Regions from separate parts of the Homo sapiens genome. Here region 2 is linked to region 1. The links come from fine-mapping of genetic effects on gene expression. Tissue or cell type: whole blood. Region 1 holds a variant in brackets; the other region holds the start of a gene. All regions are shown on one strand. Distances are between the middles of the regions.

Evidence for each region. PIP is the estimated chance that this variant, and not a neighbour inherited with it, causes the effect.
Region 2: TRAM1 starts here. The variant in region 1 is fine-mapped to the expression of TRAM1 in whole blood (TOPMed, PIP above 0.99).

The regions. Positions count from the first base shown.
Region 1 is chr8:70,552,344-70,560,514 of GRCh38, reverse strand. No RefSeq gene overlaps it. Among named protein-coding and RNA genes, the nearest start is that of TRAM1, 52 kb to the left of the region's middle. The variant A/G (reference allele first, on the strand shown) is at 3,865.
Region 2 is chr8:70,603,733-70,611,922 of GRCh38, reverse strand. It overlaps TRAM1 (translocation associated membrane protein 1), which reads left to right and starts at 3,507. Exons shown (of 11, transcript NM_014294.6): 1 at 3,507-3,846. The coding sequence starts at 3,724. It overlaps LACTB2-AS1 (LACTB2 antisense RNA 1), which reads right to left and starts at 3,346. Exons shown (of 4, transcript NR_038881.1): 1 at 3,090-3,346. It overlaps LOC124902090 (small nucleolar RNA U13), which reads right to left and starts at 7,391; the gene lies at 7,286-7,391. RefSeq lists silencers at 3,341-3,510, 3,591-3,640, 3,701-3,760, 3,811-3,990, 4,011-4,460.

The DNA of each region.
Region 1 (8,171 bases):
CTTCTAGGTGCTTTAGAAAAGCCCTGGTTGCACAGCCCAATCCCCTAGAATAAAATGAGAGGCAAAAGGACAAACTCATAATAACAGTGCTTTGTTAATCTGGTTACTGAACACTTTTAAAAACTATTAGCCATTTACAGCAGGCAACACACCTCCACGCCTCAGTTTCATATTGTGCCAATAGCAGAGAACCCAGTATTTACAAAGACAAATCAGGTCTGTGTTTATCTAAGCATGATTTGCTTTATAAAAAAATCGTACTAGGTATCTAAATGTTGCACATTGATGAGTTTTAATTCAAGCTGATTTATTCAATTAATCTAGATTATCTTTAGTGAAAAGATTATTATTATTATTATTATTTTTTTTTTTTTTTTTTTTTGAGACGGAGTCTCGCTTTGTCGCCCAGGCCGGACTGCGGACTGCAGTGGCTCAATCTCGGCTCACTGCAAGCTCTGCTTCCCGGGTTCACGCCATTCTCCTGCCTCAGCCTCCCGAGTAGCTGGGACTACAGGCGCCCGCCACCGCGCCCGGCTAATTTTTTGTATTTTTAGTAGACACGGGGTTTCACCTTGTTAGCCAGGATGGTCTCGATCTCCTGACCTCATGATCCACCCGCCTCGGCCTCCCAAAGTGCTGGGATTACAGGCGTGAGCCACCGCGCCCGGCCAAAAGATTATTAATGTAGTTGTTCAAGGCTGAAATCAAACATTTTGGGTATCCTGAAAACAAGCAAATAAAAAATTTAAGAAGCTTAGGTCCATGTTATACTCTCTTTTGTGACTATTAGTAACTTAACTTTGACCTAATTTAAGTTTACTGAAGAAAACAGTCATATTTTGAAGATCCAAACTTCAATCAACTCAAGTGATAAATAGCCTTATTGATTTCAGTTATTATGAATAGTTACACAGTGGTAAGACTAGCTAACCAGAGTTCAAATCGTGACTCCTCCACTGATCAGCTCTGTGTGATTAAATGTCTGTACCACAGTTTTCTGTGGTAATAACACCTACTCCACAAGATATGAACATGAACTGTGCATAGCCCTATGCCTGATGTTTATTAAATGTTAGTTGCTAGCTCATAAGGTTGTGACAAACACAGCAGTAATTGTCACTGCTGTTACCACTTTTCTGTTTTATGTTGAAGTTTCACAACACTGTTCAGCATTCATGCCATGCAATGCAAGCACAGTGTTCCACGACTCTACTCTGGAGCAGATGGGCCAATAAAGTTGCAAGAAATGTTCAAGCCAACATTACAGCCAGCAAAGTTACACTGAATCATTGGATGACTGTGCAGGCATGCTTCACCAACACAAACATTCATAAATCAAACATCCAAGTCTGTGCTGAATCATTTATACCTATGTGATATAATAATTATAAAAGCGAGTTGTAGGTATGGTTTCTAAGGAATGACTTTTTAAAGTCAGATATCTATGGTTTATGGGGCCATATTTCCATTTAGCTGATGTATATAACTTCTAGAGAATTTTTGGCTGCTTGGAGTTGCCTAACCTTCCAGTGTAAAGAATCAAACTTCATTAGGTAAATGAGAACGTTACAACACAATGTTTATCATGAAGTTTGAACTGATATCATAAAATGTCCTAGAATTCACATTTCTCCAAGTGGGCTGGAAGGCCTGGATGTGACAGTACATGGGGCATCCACATGTAAGTGTGGGTCATGTGTGAAAGAGTGAAATCTGAAGACTAAGGTACATACTCTGTTGTGTCCTTGCTGATTGCCTTCTGAACTAATCCTTTTCTCTTCTTATATCAAATATAAGAAAATACGGCCAGGCACGGTGGCTCACGCCTGTAATCCCAGCACTTTGGGAGGCCGAGGCAGGTGGATCACCTGGGGTTGGGAGTTTGAGACCAGCCTGACCAACATGGAGAAACCCCGTATCTACCAAAAATAAAAAATTAGCCGGGCTTGGTGGCGCATGCCTATAATCCCAGCTACTCAGGAGACTGAGGCAGGAGAATCGCTTGAATCCGGGAGGTAGAGGTTGTGGTGAGCCAAGATTGTGCCATTGCACTCCAGCCTGGGCAACAAGAGCGAAACTCCATCTCAACAACAAAAAAAAGAAAACACAGTAAAGTTACTTATGAGAACAATTATAATTTACCTAGCTCTGTCGCTCAGGCTGGAGTGCAGTGGCGCCATCTCAGCACACTGCAACCACCACCTCCTGGGTTCAAGCAACCCTTTCACATCGGCCTCCAGAGTAGCTGGGACTACAGGTGCACACCATTACGCCCAGCTAATTTTTGTATTTTTTATAAAGATGGGGGTTTCACCACGTTGCCCAGGCTGGTCTCAAACTCCTGCGCTCAAGCAATCCACCTGCCTCAGCCTCCCAAAGTGCTGGAATTACAGGTGTGAGTCACAGCACTTGGCCTATAATTTAATTATCAATGCAATTTAATCAACCTCATCTAAGTCACTAGTGACCTCAGGATCACCTATAGTGGTCCTTTTCCATTTCAAAGGAATGACAACATACAAACAATGTGACACCGGTTATTTGTCACTTAGGTCTGAAGGGAAAATATCTATACTGTATATACTAAGTAAATGAAAAATTAAGTATGGTTTTTAAGAAGTAAATTCAATTCTGTAGAATTAAGGCCTTGAAGACTACCAGGAATATGTTACAATGATTGGTGGTTGTATCCATTTGTTTTGCATTGCTATAAAGGAACCCCTGGGGCTAGGTAATTTTTAAAGATAACAGGTTTATTGGCTAATGGTTCTGCAGGCTGTACAAGAAACATAGCATCATCATCTGCTCAGCTTCTCATAAGGCCTCAGGAAGCTTTTACTCCTGGTGGAAGGTGAAGGGGAAGTAGATGTGTCACATGGTTAGAAGGGGAACAAGAGAAAGAGGAGGAAAGTTCCAGTCTCTATAACAACCACATCTCACACAAACTCATTACTTTGGGGAGGGCACAAAGTCATTCACAAGGGATCCACCCCCATGACTCAAACACCTCCCAGTAGGCCCCACCTTCAACATTGGAGATCACATTTCAACATAAGATTTGGAGGGGACAAATACCGAAACTATATCAGTGGCTTACCTACACCCTAATACATGTAGGAAGCTTTAAAAAATTCAAAAGAGATGTGAGGCTGGGTTCAGCTTCATCTTCAAAGAGAAATTCCATAACTGCAGAATCATCAATCATTCTCTGGGAACAGAAAGCCCTAGTTGAAACCTAGAAGTCATTTCTTTGTTGATATGGTGAGTCAACTCTGTCTCAGTGCAGAAATACTGGTTCGAAGGAATGAGATGGAGAAGGACAGATAATTGTTAGCAAAAAGAAATCTCTTTCTGAAGAGATAATACTCTGCAGTGATTTTCATTGAAATTTACAAAACATCTCTAAATATTGGCCTTTATACAGTAAGCTCAGGCTTATTCTGCTATTATATAGCAACTTAATTTTGCATGACCTGTGGTGGCGGGGTTTTTTTTTAATTTGTTTTTATGAAGGATCAAACAGAATAAGGAATTTTTGTTTGTTTGTTTGTTTTGAGACCAGGTCTCGCTCTGTTTCCCAGGCTGGAGTGCAGTGGTGTGATCACAGCTCACTGCAGTCTCAACCTCCTGGGCATAGGTGATCCTCTTGGCTCAGCCTTCCAAGTAGCTGTGACCACAGGTGCACACCACCACACCTGGCTGATTTTTTAACTATCTGTAGAGATATAAATAATTTGCAGATGTCCCTATGTTGCCCAAGCTAGTCTCGAACTTCTGGACTCAAGTGATCCTCCTGCCTCTGCCTCCCAAAGTGCTGGGATTACAGATTTGAGCCCCTGCGCCAGGCCAGAATAAAGAACTTTA[A/G]AAAGCAATGCCATCTTGTAACTTCAGGTTTAAGTAATCACTGCTCTCCTTGTTTTACTGTATTTTGATGAGTATCAACATTCCGATTACAGTCCGGCATCTCTTAATAGGCAATGCCAATCATACCCCATTATATATTGCTGTGGAGTAAATACTCAGTAGGGGCTACTGCAATCACCAGCCTAATTTTCCACTCACACTCCATTCATGTCAGCACTTTAGTCTCCAAAGGTAAGAGCAGCTGTATTCGTTATACTCATCAACCCAGCTGCTCTTATTTGTTCCTTTTCTTTTTTTTTCTAATGTCCCCACTTCTCTACTAAAAGAAACACTTTTGCCCTGTGATTTTTTTTTTCAGTTGGTTACTTCAGCTGATCTTTATGTCAGCTGATCCTTATGCAGTATTTGCCCTTCCATCTAAAATTGTGTTCTTACATACCACAATTTCCAGTTCCAAAGAGGAGACCCCCACACTGCTATGGTTTGCTCTGACGGAATGGCCAAAGTGGGGGAACAAGTTAAAAGTGGGTCCAGAACTTTGCTCATTTATATGAAAGTTTGGTCTTAAAAGTATTGGATCAATAAAAGTATTAGAAATTAATTTCTTCTTGATATTTTTAATTGCCTAAAAAAACAGAAGTTATCAGTTGCATGGGATGTTTTGTACTTAGTGATTCTCATTTCAGAGAAGCTTAGTTTTAATGAGTTCCTATCCGGAAATGCTCTGACTCCCCTTCAGTTCTGCAAATGTCTGTTCCTGAGAGGATGGTTCACATTAATTACAGTGTCTCTTCATCTTCCCCTGCATGCAGCAGGGTTCAGCACCTTGCTTTTGAAATGAACGAAATGGGGAAAGGATGCTTGCCTTTCATACATCCTAGTATTATATATAGCACAGGACCTCTCCTACCTCAGAGTCCCCACAATAACCTCCCACAGCCCAGTCTTTATCTTCCACAATCTTATTTATTTTGAGGCAGGATCTCACTCTGTCCCCCAGGCGGGGGTGCAGTGGTATGATCAAGGCTTACTGCAACCTCCACCTCCCAGGTTCAAGCGATCCTCCCACCTCAGCCTCCTGAGGAGCTGGACCTACAGGCGCACATCACTACGCCTGGCTATAAATGGTGCATTCTTGCTGTGACAGCAAGGACATGGCAGAAAGGACAAGGCAGCTCTCTGGACCTCTTTTATAAAAACACTAATCCCAATCATGAGATCAGAGCCTTCATGACCTAATCACCTCTCAAAGGTCCCACTCCTAACACCATCATCACCTCGTGGGGGTAGGATTTCAACATATATATTTGGGGGGCATGGTGATATAAACATTCAGACCATTGCTACAAGGATACTGTATTTTCTTTTTTCTAAATGTGCTCTCTTCATACTTTAGCATTTCTGAAATAAAAATGGGTCTTTCAGTAGCAAATTTCTCTTAGTGGCCTACAGCATAAAGACTTTTTTTTTTAACCTGATTGTTAGGGTTTAAATGTTTGTCTCTTCCTAAACTCATGTTGGAATTTAATTTCCTTTGTAATAGTATTTAGAGGTGGGATCTTTAAGAGGTGATTAGGCCATGAAGACTCTGCCCATATAAATAGATTAATGTTAATATGGGAGTGGGTTTCTGATGAAAGGACAAGTTAGGTCAGGCATGGTGGCTCATGCCTGTAATCCCAGCACTTTGGGAGGCCAAGGTGGGAGGACTGCTTGAGCCCCAGAGTTCAAGACTAGCCTGGGCAATATGGTGAAACCCCACCTCTACAACAGATTAAAAACATTAGTAGGGCATGGTGGCACATGCTTGTGGTCCCAGCTACTCAGGAGGCTGAGGCAGGAGGATGACTTGAGCCCAGGAAGTTGAGGCTTCGGTGAGCCATGGTTGTGCCACTGCACTCCAGCCTGGGTGACAAAGTGAGACCCTGTCTCAAAATAAATAAATAAACAAATAAATAAATAAATAAATAAAAAGACAAGTTAAACACCTCTATTTTTCTCTCCCTCTCTCTGTCTCTCTCTCTCTCTCCCTCTCTTTGCCTTTATGCCATGGAGTTATACAGCAAGAATGCCCCTGCCAGATGCTGGACCTTCAGTTTTGGACTTCCTAGCCTCCAGAACCATAAGCCAATACATTTCTGTCTATTATAAATCATCCAGCCTGTGGTATTCTGTTATAGCTTCACAAAGTAGACTAAGACACTGACGAATTCTTAGATTGCATGAAATTCAGTATATATTGCTAATATTTATCGATGGATAAGTCCCAGTTGGTATTTTATGTGCTTTACCCCCATCATTTATAAACTCCACAAGGATACCTTGAATAGTTGGGGATCATCCTATTAACACTGTTTTATAGAAATTGAATCTCAGAGGGGTCAAGTGACTTAGTAAGTGGCAAAGCCAGGTTTTGCACATGTCTGTGGTGGAGCCTCTGTTCTTCACTGTGTCCTACCACACAGTCTGGCAAAACAAGGACAAGACTGCTTAGAAGATGTACAAAGTCCTGGCGTGGTGGCTCACACCTGTAATCCCAGCACTTTAGGAGGCCGAAGTGGGTGGATCACCTGAGGTCAGGAGTTCAAGACCAGCCTGGCCAACATGGTGAAACCCTGTCTCTACTAAAAATGCAAAAATTAGCCAGGCATGGTAGTGGGTGCCTGTAATCCCAGCTACTCAGGAGGCTGAGACAGGAGAATCACTTGATCCTGGGTGGTGGAACTTGCAGTGAGCCAAGATTGAGCCACTGCACTCCAGCCTAGGTGACAAAGCGAGACTCCATCTCAAAAAAAAAAAAAAAAAAAAAAGAAGATGCACAAAGAGGTCGAACATGGTGGCTCACGCCTGTAATCCCAACATGGATAACCTGAGATGAGGAGTTTGAGACCAGCCTGGCCAACATGGCAAAACCCCGTCTCCACTAAAACTACAAAAATTAGCCGGGTGTGGTGGCAGGCGCCTATAATCTCAGCTACTTAGGAGGCTGAGGCAGGAGAAATGCTTGAACCCGGGAGGTGGAGGTTTTAGTGAGCTGGGATCACACCACTGCACTCCAGCCTGGGCAACAAGAGTGAGACTCTGTCTCAAATCATTAAAAAAAAAAATAGAAGTCACAGAAACTAAGCAAGAGGACTTCAGGGAATGAATGGTTGGCAGTGCCAAAAGTTTCAAAGAAGAAAAAATACAAAGCCTAAAAAAAGTTCATCAAATCTGTTTCCTAGAAAGCCATGGGTGCCCTCAGTGAAAAAGAGCAACAGGTGTCACCAAGGGGTTCCCTCTGCCTCACTTTCACGCATTTTTCTCATGCACCTAAGGTCAAGAGGATTGGGGGTTGGGGTGGATCTTTGTCTGGTCTGGTCCCCCGTGGGCAGCAGATGCTGGACTCCTCCGAGCACATGGGAAGAGACTGTGAGTGTTTTCCTGGCACTGACAAACACCAACTCTGGCCTGTAGAAGACCTGGATGGGAAAAGTGTGGGGAGGGTCGCTGGGGTACTGGGACATGCCCAGCACTTCCCTCACTGGGATGGGGAGGGACTGCTTCCTCCTCACTGGGAGCTGAGCCAGGACCTTTCAGGCATTGCTGCAGGCATGAGTTTTGAGGACAGAGTTTCACACAAATCTGCCACACAGGAGAGGGGGTGATGAATCCCCAATGGCTGGATGTGCTCATATAGGCCTACAGCTTGGGAATGCCCGCAACAGGGCACCTGAGAAAAGAGGACCCCAGACAGGGTGCCCTTTCCTCCTACTGCCTGGCAGGGCGGACCCATGAAGAGTGCAGCAGCTGCTGCATCTGGAGACTGCCACAGCCTGTGCCCCCGACCCAGGAGTTTTGATCATTTCACTGGTCATGCCTCAGTTACTAATATAAGTCAGTTCTTGCCATTGAAAGTGACTTTGTATGGCCTACAACTGTCCTTGCAAGCTATAGGGACCTGCCTGAGATTATATCCTCAGGAAGGAAAAGATGTAGCCCATAGAGTAGGTTGGGAGGGACAATGAAACTAAAGTGGCTTTGATCCAACCCTGTCAAACCCAATTCACTCAATACAAAGGTTACAAGCAAGAATTAGAAGAACAAAAAAGCAAAACAAAAGACGACGGCAAGTACTGTCACCAATACAGCTATGTAATGTCTTTATTCCAGACATTGTGCCAAGGCATGGAATATATAGGAATGAATAAGACAGGCACAATCCCTGCTCTCACGAGCTTAAAGTATGGCATAAAAGAAAAGTGACCATGTATAAAAATATTATGACAACTTGTAAGTGCCATCACAGGAAAAGGCAGAGCTGTTAT
Region 2 (8,190 bases), 51 kb before region 1:
GTACAAAATACAAGTGAGTCCTCATAGACCCAAGTGTAAGAGCTAAAACCATAAAACTCTTAGAAGAAAACACAGGAGTAAATCTTTGGAATCTTGGGTTAGGCACTGATTTCTTATATAGGACAACAATAGCAAGTGATTAAAGAGAAAACAGGTAAGTTGGACTTTGCTGAATTAAAAACTTTTGTGCTTCAAAGAAAACCATCAAGAAAGTAAAAAGACAGACTGAAAGAAAATATTTTCAAATCATATATCTGCTAAGATCTAGAATCTATCTTTTATTTTTTAAAATAAATTACAGAACAACATGGACATATAGAATAGATATTTTTAAACCCTTACAACTCAATAAACTTTAAAAAATTAATCCAACTTAGAAATGATAAAGGATTTGAATAGACATTTCTACAAAAAAAGATATACAGATGGCTTCTGAGCACCTGATAAGGCTAGTAGTCAATATCATTAGTGCTCAGGGAAATGCAAAGCAAAATCACAATGAGATATTACTTCACACCCACTAGGACAGATAAGATTAAAAGACAGAAAATAAAAGTATTGGCAAGGATGGGAAGAAATTGGAACCTCTACACATTGCTAATAGGATGGGAAATAGTGCATTCACTTTGGAAATTAGTGTGAGAGTTCCTCAAAACGTCAAACATAAAGTTGCCTTATGATCAGCAATTCCACTGCTAGGTATATACCCAAAGGAATTGAGTTCAAACAAAAACTTGTACACAAATGTTCATCAACTGATGAATAAGATGTGCTATAGCCATACAATGGAATATTATTTGGCCATAAAAAGGAGTGAAGTACTGATACATGTTACAACATCGATGAACCTTGGAAACATTATCTTCAGTGAAAGAAGTCAGTCACAAAAGATCATGATTCTATTTACATGTAATGTCCAAGCTGGCCATGGTGGTTCACACCTGTAATCCCAGCACTTTGGGAGGTGGGAGAATTTCTTGAGGCCAGGAGTCCAAGGTTGCAGTGAGCTATGATCATGCCACTGTACACCAGCCTAGGCAACAGAGCAAGACCCCATCTCAAAAAAAGAAAGAAAAGAAACAAAGAAAGAACAAAAAGAAATGTCCACAATAAGCAAATATAGAGAGGTAGAAAATAGGTCAGTTGTTGCCAAGGGCTGCCAAGACTATGAGGGGAAATGGAGAGTTACTGGTAATGTGTATAAGGTTTCTTTTAGAGATTACAAGAATGTTCTAAAGTTATATTATGGTGATTGTTGCACAACTTTGCAAACATACTAAAAACCACAGAATTGAATATCTCAAATAGCTGAACTATATGACATAAATTATACTGCAATAAAACTATTTCAAAAATGCAATTGAATCATAAAAGATAAATTGCTTAGGTCACAGAATTCAGTGAAGCTTTCGAAGAGGTCATGTGTAAATGAGACATGAAGGAACAGCAGGAGCCTGCTGTGTCTATGAAAGGACAGGAGAAAACATTCCAGACAGAGACAGCAGTACACGCAAAGGCAGGGGAGAGCATGGGAAGAGAGCATGTCATGGCATGTACAGTCGTCCCTCAGTCTTCACAGGGGACTGGTTCCAGGGCCCCCGCGGATACCGAAATCCACCCATGCTCAGGTGCCTTATATAAGATGATGCAATATTCTGGTAAAGAATATCCTAAATCCTCCCACAGACCTCCAATCATTTCTAGATTACTTATAATAACACAACATAACTGCTAAATAAATAGTTGGCTGTACTATATTATTTAGGGAATAATCATGGGGGGGTAGTCTGTAGATGTTCAGTACAAATGCAGTTTTTTTCTTGAATATCTTTTACTCCAGGTTGGTTGAATCCACAGTGTATGCGGCACCCACAGATATGGAGAGGCAACTGTATAGTGTGTGTAGTCAATAATGCTGGTACAGAGATTATGGCCTGTAGATGCAGGGCTCCAGTCTGTTGGGGTAGGCAAGGACCAAATCAGAAAGGGCTATTTCATCATGCTAGCTTTCCATGAAGGGAAAGGGAACCCGCTGAAAAACTTTCTGCCAGTAGAAGCATCATTCTAGTATAAACGTTGAAAGGTGATCTGAAGGGAAATGAAACTAGTGATTGCCCAGAAGGAGGAAAAGAATAATCCCTGACTAAATTTATAAAGCCCTTACTCCCCGCTAAGCAGTTTCCTTCAATCATCTCATTTAATCACTAAAATGAGCAATAGTTATCCCCACTTTATAGATGATATCCACAGGGCTTGCTCCCTCACCTCCTGCAGGTCTTCAGGCAAGTATAAGTGCCTCGCACTTTCCTATTCCCCTTGCTTTATTTTTCTCCTGGTTGCTCAACTCAATTTAACATCTGTTTCGCTTTTGAAATCTTGTTTAAAGATTCTCTCCCACACTAGAATGATAAGTCCCTAGGAATAATTTAATTTGTATTTCAGTTCTGTATCCCCAGTGCCCAGGACACAGTCAACCCTCAGTAAGTACATAAATGAATACATTTTTAAAAATGAGGAAATCGGGTCCCATAGAGATTAAGTAACTTGTCCTTGATCGTACAAGTAATAAGTGGCAGAATTCTGATTTAACAACCCACATTCTTAAACCACTAAGTGGTTACACCAGAGTTGTAATATTGTAGGCAAGAGGCAAGTACCCTCGGACTGCGGTAGTGGGGAAGCGGGGTGATAGGTCTGCCTCGAATTGGTGATGACTGGATGTGGAAGGGCGCTGAAAGGGCTCAATCTAGCATGACTTTGGTTTCTACATTTGGCTTATGGGTAAACAGGAGAGCAATTCTTCAGGAAAAAGAATACAAAGGACTCCAGGTTTGGGCAAAACGATAAGAGGAGGACGTGTCTTAATCCACGATCCTTTTTAACTCTTTTACTATTTCCCTTAGATTACTAAAACATGTTGTTAATTTGAATATATGTGAAGCCAGTAAACCCAAACTGATCCCTTCGTCTTCAGTCTGAGGCCAGTGGGGGATAGGGGTGGGGATGGGGACGGGGATGGGGGTGGGGACGGAGAGGCAGACCAGAATAGGGTCAGCTCTTTTTTTTTTTTTAAGTTAGTCCAAACTTACCAAGAGTAGAAATAAGTCCCCAGCAGTGCTTAACTCTGAGGTAATTTTTAAGGCAGATGCTAAAACTGGAGAATACACCGTACCCTTGTGGAGTCAGGTAGTATTCGTAGTTTTAGATTATCCTGACGGTGTTAGTCACTTGTAGAAGTGACAATGTGCAACAGGCCACTGACACCCAATCCCTGGATGGCCAGGAGGGCAGGAGGGCACCCGGCCGCGGCCTCAGGCTGCTGAGCAGGCGCAGGAAGCTCGCGCCTCAAACGACTCCCAAACCCGGGCCCGGCGCGAAGCAGGGAAGCGCCGCTCACATTCCTGCACGCTCGCCCGGCCGCGGGCCAGCGGCCTCCGGTCCCCAGGTGGCGCTGTGGGCTCGCGGAGGCGGCCGCGGCACCAGGGAGCGTCGTCTCCCTGGTGCGCATGCTCGCCCCCGCTGCGGGCTAGCTGTTGTGTTTTTTTTTTTCCCCCGGGCGGCCCGGCGGCTGCGTACTGGCTGTGGGATGGGAAGTGAAGCCCCAGCGAGCGGCTGCAGCGGGGCCGTGAGGAGCAGCCAGCGGGAGGCGGCGGCGAGTCGGTGAGCAGCTGGGAAGAGCAGAACCGGGGCGGAGCACCTGCAGGCGCGGGCGGCGGCCCCACCATGGCGATTCGCAAGAAAAGCACCAAGAGCCCCCCAGTGCTGAGCCACGAATTCGTCCTGCAGAATCACGCGGACATCGTCTCCTGTGTGGCGATGGTCTTCCTGCTGGGGCTCATGTTTGAGGTGAGCCCGCCCCGAGTCCCAACCGCCTGCCCCGCCACCTCCAGCCCGGGCCCGGGCTCCAGATGCCAGCCCCGGCTTCTCCGCCCAGGACGCGGGGGGCTCGGGCCCGGGGTGGGTGCAGACCCCCAGTCCCTGAGGTGCAGGCCTTCCCTGCCCTGCCCCACGTCGGCGGCAGCTCCCCGGCGGCCGGCCCGGAGATGCAAAGTCCCGGTGGGCCTCATCGCGGCCCGCAGGGGGTGGGGACCGCCGCGTCGCCCCCTTCCTGACCCGCCGCCGCCCCCTCCCGCAGGCTGCGCGGCGCAGTTCCTGGTTCCCGCGAAGGGTTACGTGGCAGCCGGCGAGGGGCCTGCGGGCGGGGGCGGCCCCTGCGCTGCCGAGCTGGCTCGGGGCGGGTGGGCGGACTTGGGGGGACTGCCAGCCTCGGCCGCGGTGAGCGTCAGCCCCGCGAGGGCCGGGGAAGGCCGAGGCCCGGCCCCCGGGTCTGAGGAGTGCCGGCCTGGAGACCACAGGCCCCGAGTGACAGGGGAGCCCCCGGTAGCTCCGAGATTGGGGTGAGCGAGAAACCGGAGTCAGGCATCTGCTTTCGACTTGAAGGGCGGTGGCCGCCGGGCACCGGCGCAGTGGAGGCGCGCCAGATTGTTTTCATTTTTGTCTTTTAAACTGATATTATTACCAGTTAACGAACTTTTTGCCCTGACGCTTTAAAGAAACAAGGTCTGATGGATAAATCGAGGTTCTGAACAGCGGTGCCAAGGAATCGAGTAATTTTGTTTCTTGAAGTAGGAGAGGATGGGAATGTCAGGAGTGTGTAAATTCTCTTCCCACGTATCTAGTATTTTGATGACTTATTTAACAGCTGTTGAATGTGGATGATAAACTTTGCAAGGTGAACGAGTAACATCCTACGTTTTTCCCCTCGCTCCCCAATACACACGCTCATTCCTTTGCTTTTTTCCCTTTTTAATTTTTCTCTGGAGCCTTTATGTCTCAGTAAATATACAAATTATTTTGCTCCTGCCTTGTTTTGTCTCCTCTCTCCTGCATGTAACAAGTGAGAGTAGAGATTTTGGAGTATTTTTACGAGTCTGTATTTCCAGAGTCTAGGATAGTGCCTGGGACATAGGAGTGCTTAAAAAAAGATGAGCGACGTTAAGAATCCTTGAGAAAACCTAATGGAATGATATTACCAGTGACCAAAAGGTGAATACATTTTCTTTTTAATGGAGCATATTTGTTTTTTTTTTTAATTTTAAAATTAAATAATATTTTAACCTTATTTTCGCCTCTCATCAAATGGGCTTTTCTGGATCTAGATACAGATATTATTTACTCCTGATTGTGTCATGCATGTTTGAAACCACTGCTAAGGAGGTAGCAGGTATAGTTAAAGGGTAGGTAGAAGGAAACTAACATTCTCAAGCTTTAAGTCTGGGCTGTGCCACCTACCTACTGGGTGACCCAAGTCTGAGCCTCAATTTTTCTGCTCTTTATCAGGAAATAATATCACCTGTACTGTTCTCCTCACAGCCATTTTTTGCAAGTATCAGATGATATGGTGTGAAGGTAAATACAGTGCTAGGCCTGGTGCTCTGGCTTATGCCTGTAAACATCCCAACACTTTGGGAGGCCAAGGCAGGAGAATCACTGGAGCCCAGGAGTTCGAGACCAGCCTAGGCAACATAGGGAGACCCTGTCTCTACAAATGATTTTTTAAAAATTAGCCAGGAGTGATAGATAGCACGCACCTGTGGTCTCAGCTGGGCGGCTGAGGTGGGATAATTACTTGAGCCCAGGAGGTGGAGGCTGCGGTGAGCCAAGGTTTCACCACTGCACTCCAGCCTGAAGGACAGAGCAAGAAGACCCTGTCTCAAAAAAAACCCAATGTTAAACATTTGTATTCACTTTCTGAATTTGATACTTGCATGTACTTTCTGCTTTGACCTTAAAGTAGTACTTTAATATATGTAGTATATTCAATTTTCTGTAACTTGTCATAAACCATCTCCACATGGTAAGAATTCCTGACTTTAAAAACATATTTTAGGGGTACTGTGACCTGCAAGGTATATTTGCAGTGCTTTGAATGAAATGAAATATAAATCAGAAATTCTGACACATAGTATAACTTTGATTTTATATAAACTATTTTACATTCTCTTACTATATTTCTAGGGAAGTCCACCACCTATACCTTGCCTCACATGTTAGTGATTTTTTTAAACAGTGGATTTTCACCTTTATATAAATTTATAAAATTTGAAAATCTAAATAGACAAAAATACTAAATAGAGGTTTTTAAGTCAATTCAAAAGTGAGTGTTAAAGTGATACACAAAAGTGAAGTTTGTGCGAGTTCTTCCTTTTTCTTACCATATATTAAGGTGTTAGGATTTCAAAGCATGTTATCTATATATAGGACTTTGTAGACTAGGTTAGTTTTGCTATTCGACTTTTAAAACAATTGCTGCTGAATCTCAAAGTTAACATAATTATAGAATTACAGTACTTGTGCTAGAATAATAGAGAAATTGATTTTTTTTTGCAGAACTGTTAAGCCTGTTGTGCAGATACATTGAGGAAATGTCAGAGGATTTATGGTGACATTGACAAAGAAATTCAGAAAGAAAGAAATACTGTATTACTAGCCAAAATGAAGAAGCAATGGAGATACACTGTAAAAGCATGGATTCTGGAGCTGAAGGGATTCATGTTCAAGTTAGGGCTCTGCAGCTTGCTAACTGGGTGACCTAGGGCAGCTCAGAACTGAAGTTTCCTCATCTGTAAAATGGGGCTTATTGGGTTACTCTGACAAATTAACCAATTTGTATTATGCCTAGTTCAATACTTGACTTCCAAAAGGTGTGCAATAAGTGGTAGCTATTATTATTCTTTAAAAACTCACCAAAATTGGGAAATAGAAAGCATTTTTATGTGAGAGAAGGGCCTGGAATCTCTTTAGTTAGCATCTAAAGAGATTATACATACTGAAAAGGCTAACAAAGTAGTCTGTTTGGCAGTAATGTAAGAGTTTAATTTCCAGGGAACTTCACATTAATCAAAAATTGCTTGTAAATTTTGGAATCATAGTTTTATTACAGTAAATATCTGTCCACATAATTCAAATCATAGTATACAATGAATGGCTTCATATTTGAGTTAGGAAAAATTGAATGGTCAAAAAATGTTAGGGATGCTTGGGAAGCTTTCTGAAAGTGAGTATGTGGAGGAGGGGTGAAGAATTAGGGGTTCACAAGAGAAGTATTTCTTTTAAGGAGTGTATAAAGGAAAGATATTCAAAAGGAAATATATTCAAAAGGAAAGATATTCAAAATCTGCAAGTTCTTTATGCCATACAGATTTTGGGGACGTTTACAATTTCAACAATCTTGAAACAGTTTTCAAGGTTTGGGTTTTTTTTTTCTTTCCTTTTTTTCTTTCTTTTTATGACAGGTAAGGTGCTCAGGTCAGAACAAAGTTTGAGGGAGAGACACATCTCACATATAAGCGTGAAACCCCAATCATCACACTTGTGAACTACAAAAGGGTCTCTCTTTTTTTTGAGACAGGGTCTTGCTATGTTGCCTTGGCTGGAACTTGACCTCCTGGGCTCAAGTGATCCTCCCCTCTCGCCACCTGAGTGGCTGGGACTACAGGCACGTGCCACTGAGCCCCACTGGAAGTGGAATTTGATATTCAGAATTGTCTTTACTTTTCAAGGATCCAGTCCATGTAGTGACTGGTCACATCTTCCTCTAAAACAAGTGCAAAGTAGTTAACATCTCTATATAACAAGAAAGATACCAAGCCCCAACCGGTGACATTTAATTAAAGAAATGTTGTATTTATGACATTGCATACAGCATAGAATTAGGTAATTCATTACAGTTTCTGGTAACCTATTTAAGATGCATCTGAATAAGTCTCTTTTTTCATTTTTCCATTTTTGTAAATGGAGAGCAGCTCTGTAAATGTTCAAACTGTCATAAACTCAGGTATTTTTACTTTCGAGTGCATTATATATTTCTGTAGCCTATTTATATTCTAAACTAACTTATCTTACTACTAATTAATTGTGGTGTGAGTTTAACTGCAGCAATGCTAGCAGGGTGTGAGGCTTAGGAGGCCTGGAAATGGCTAGGAGCAAGACTGCTAGCTTAAACTTGAAACTTTTTGGAGTGTGTAGTTTACATTTTTCCTCTTCTTCTTCTATTTAAACTCACATGCTAAACCAGCTGGAGGTCAAATTTTAATTTTATTTGGAAGCCTGGCTAAAAGGATAATCTAATTTTTGCTGCTTTTAGAATTTGATGCTAAATTTATCTTTGAAGAATCTCATTTGTTGTTT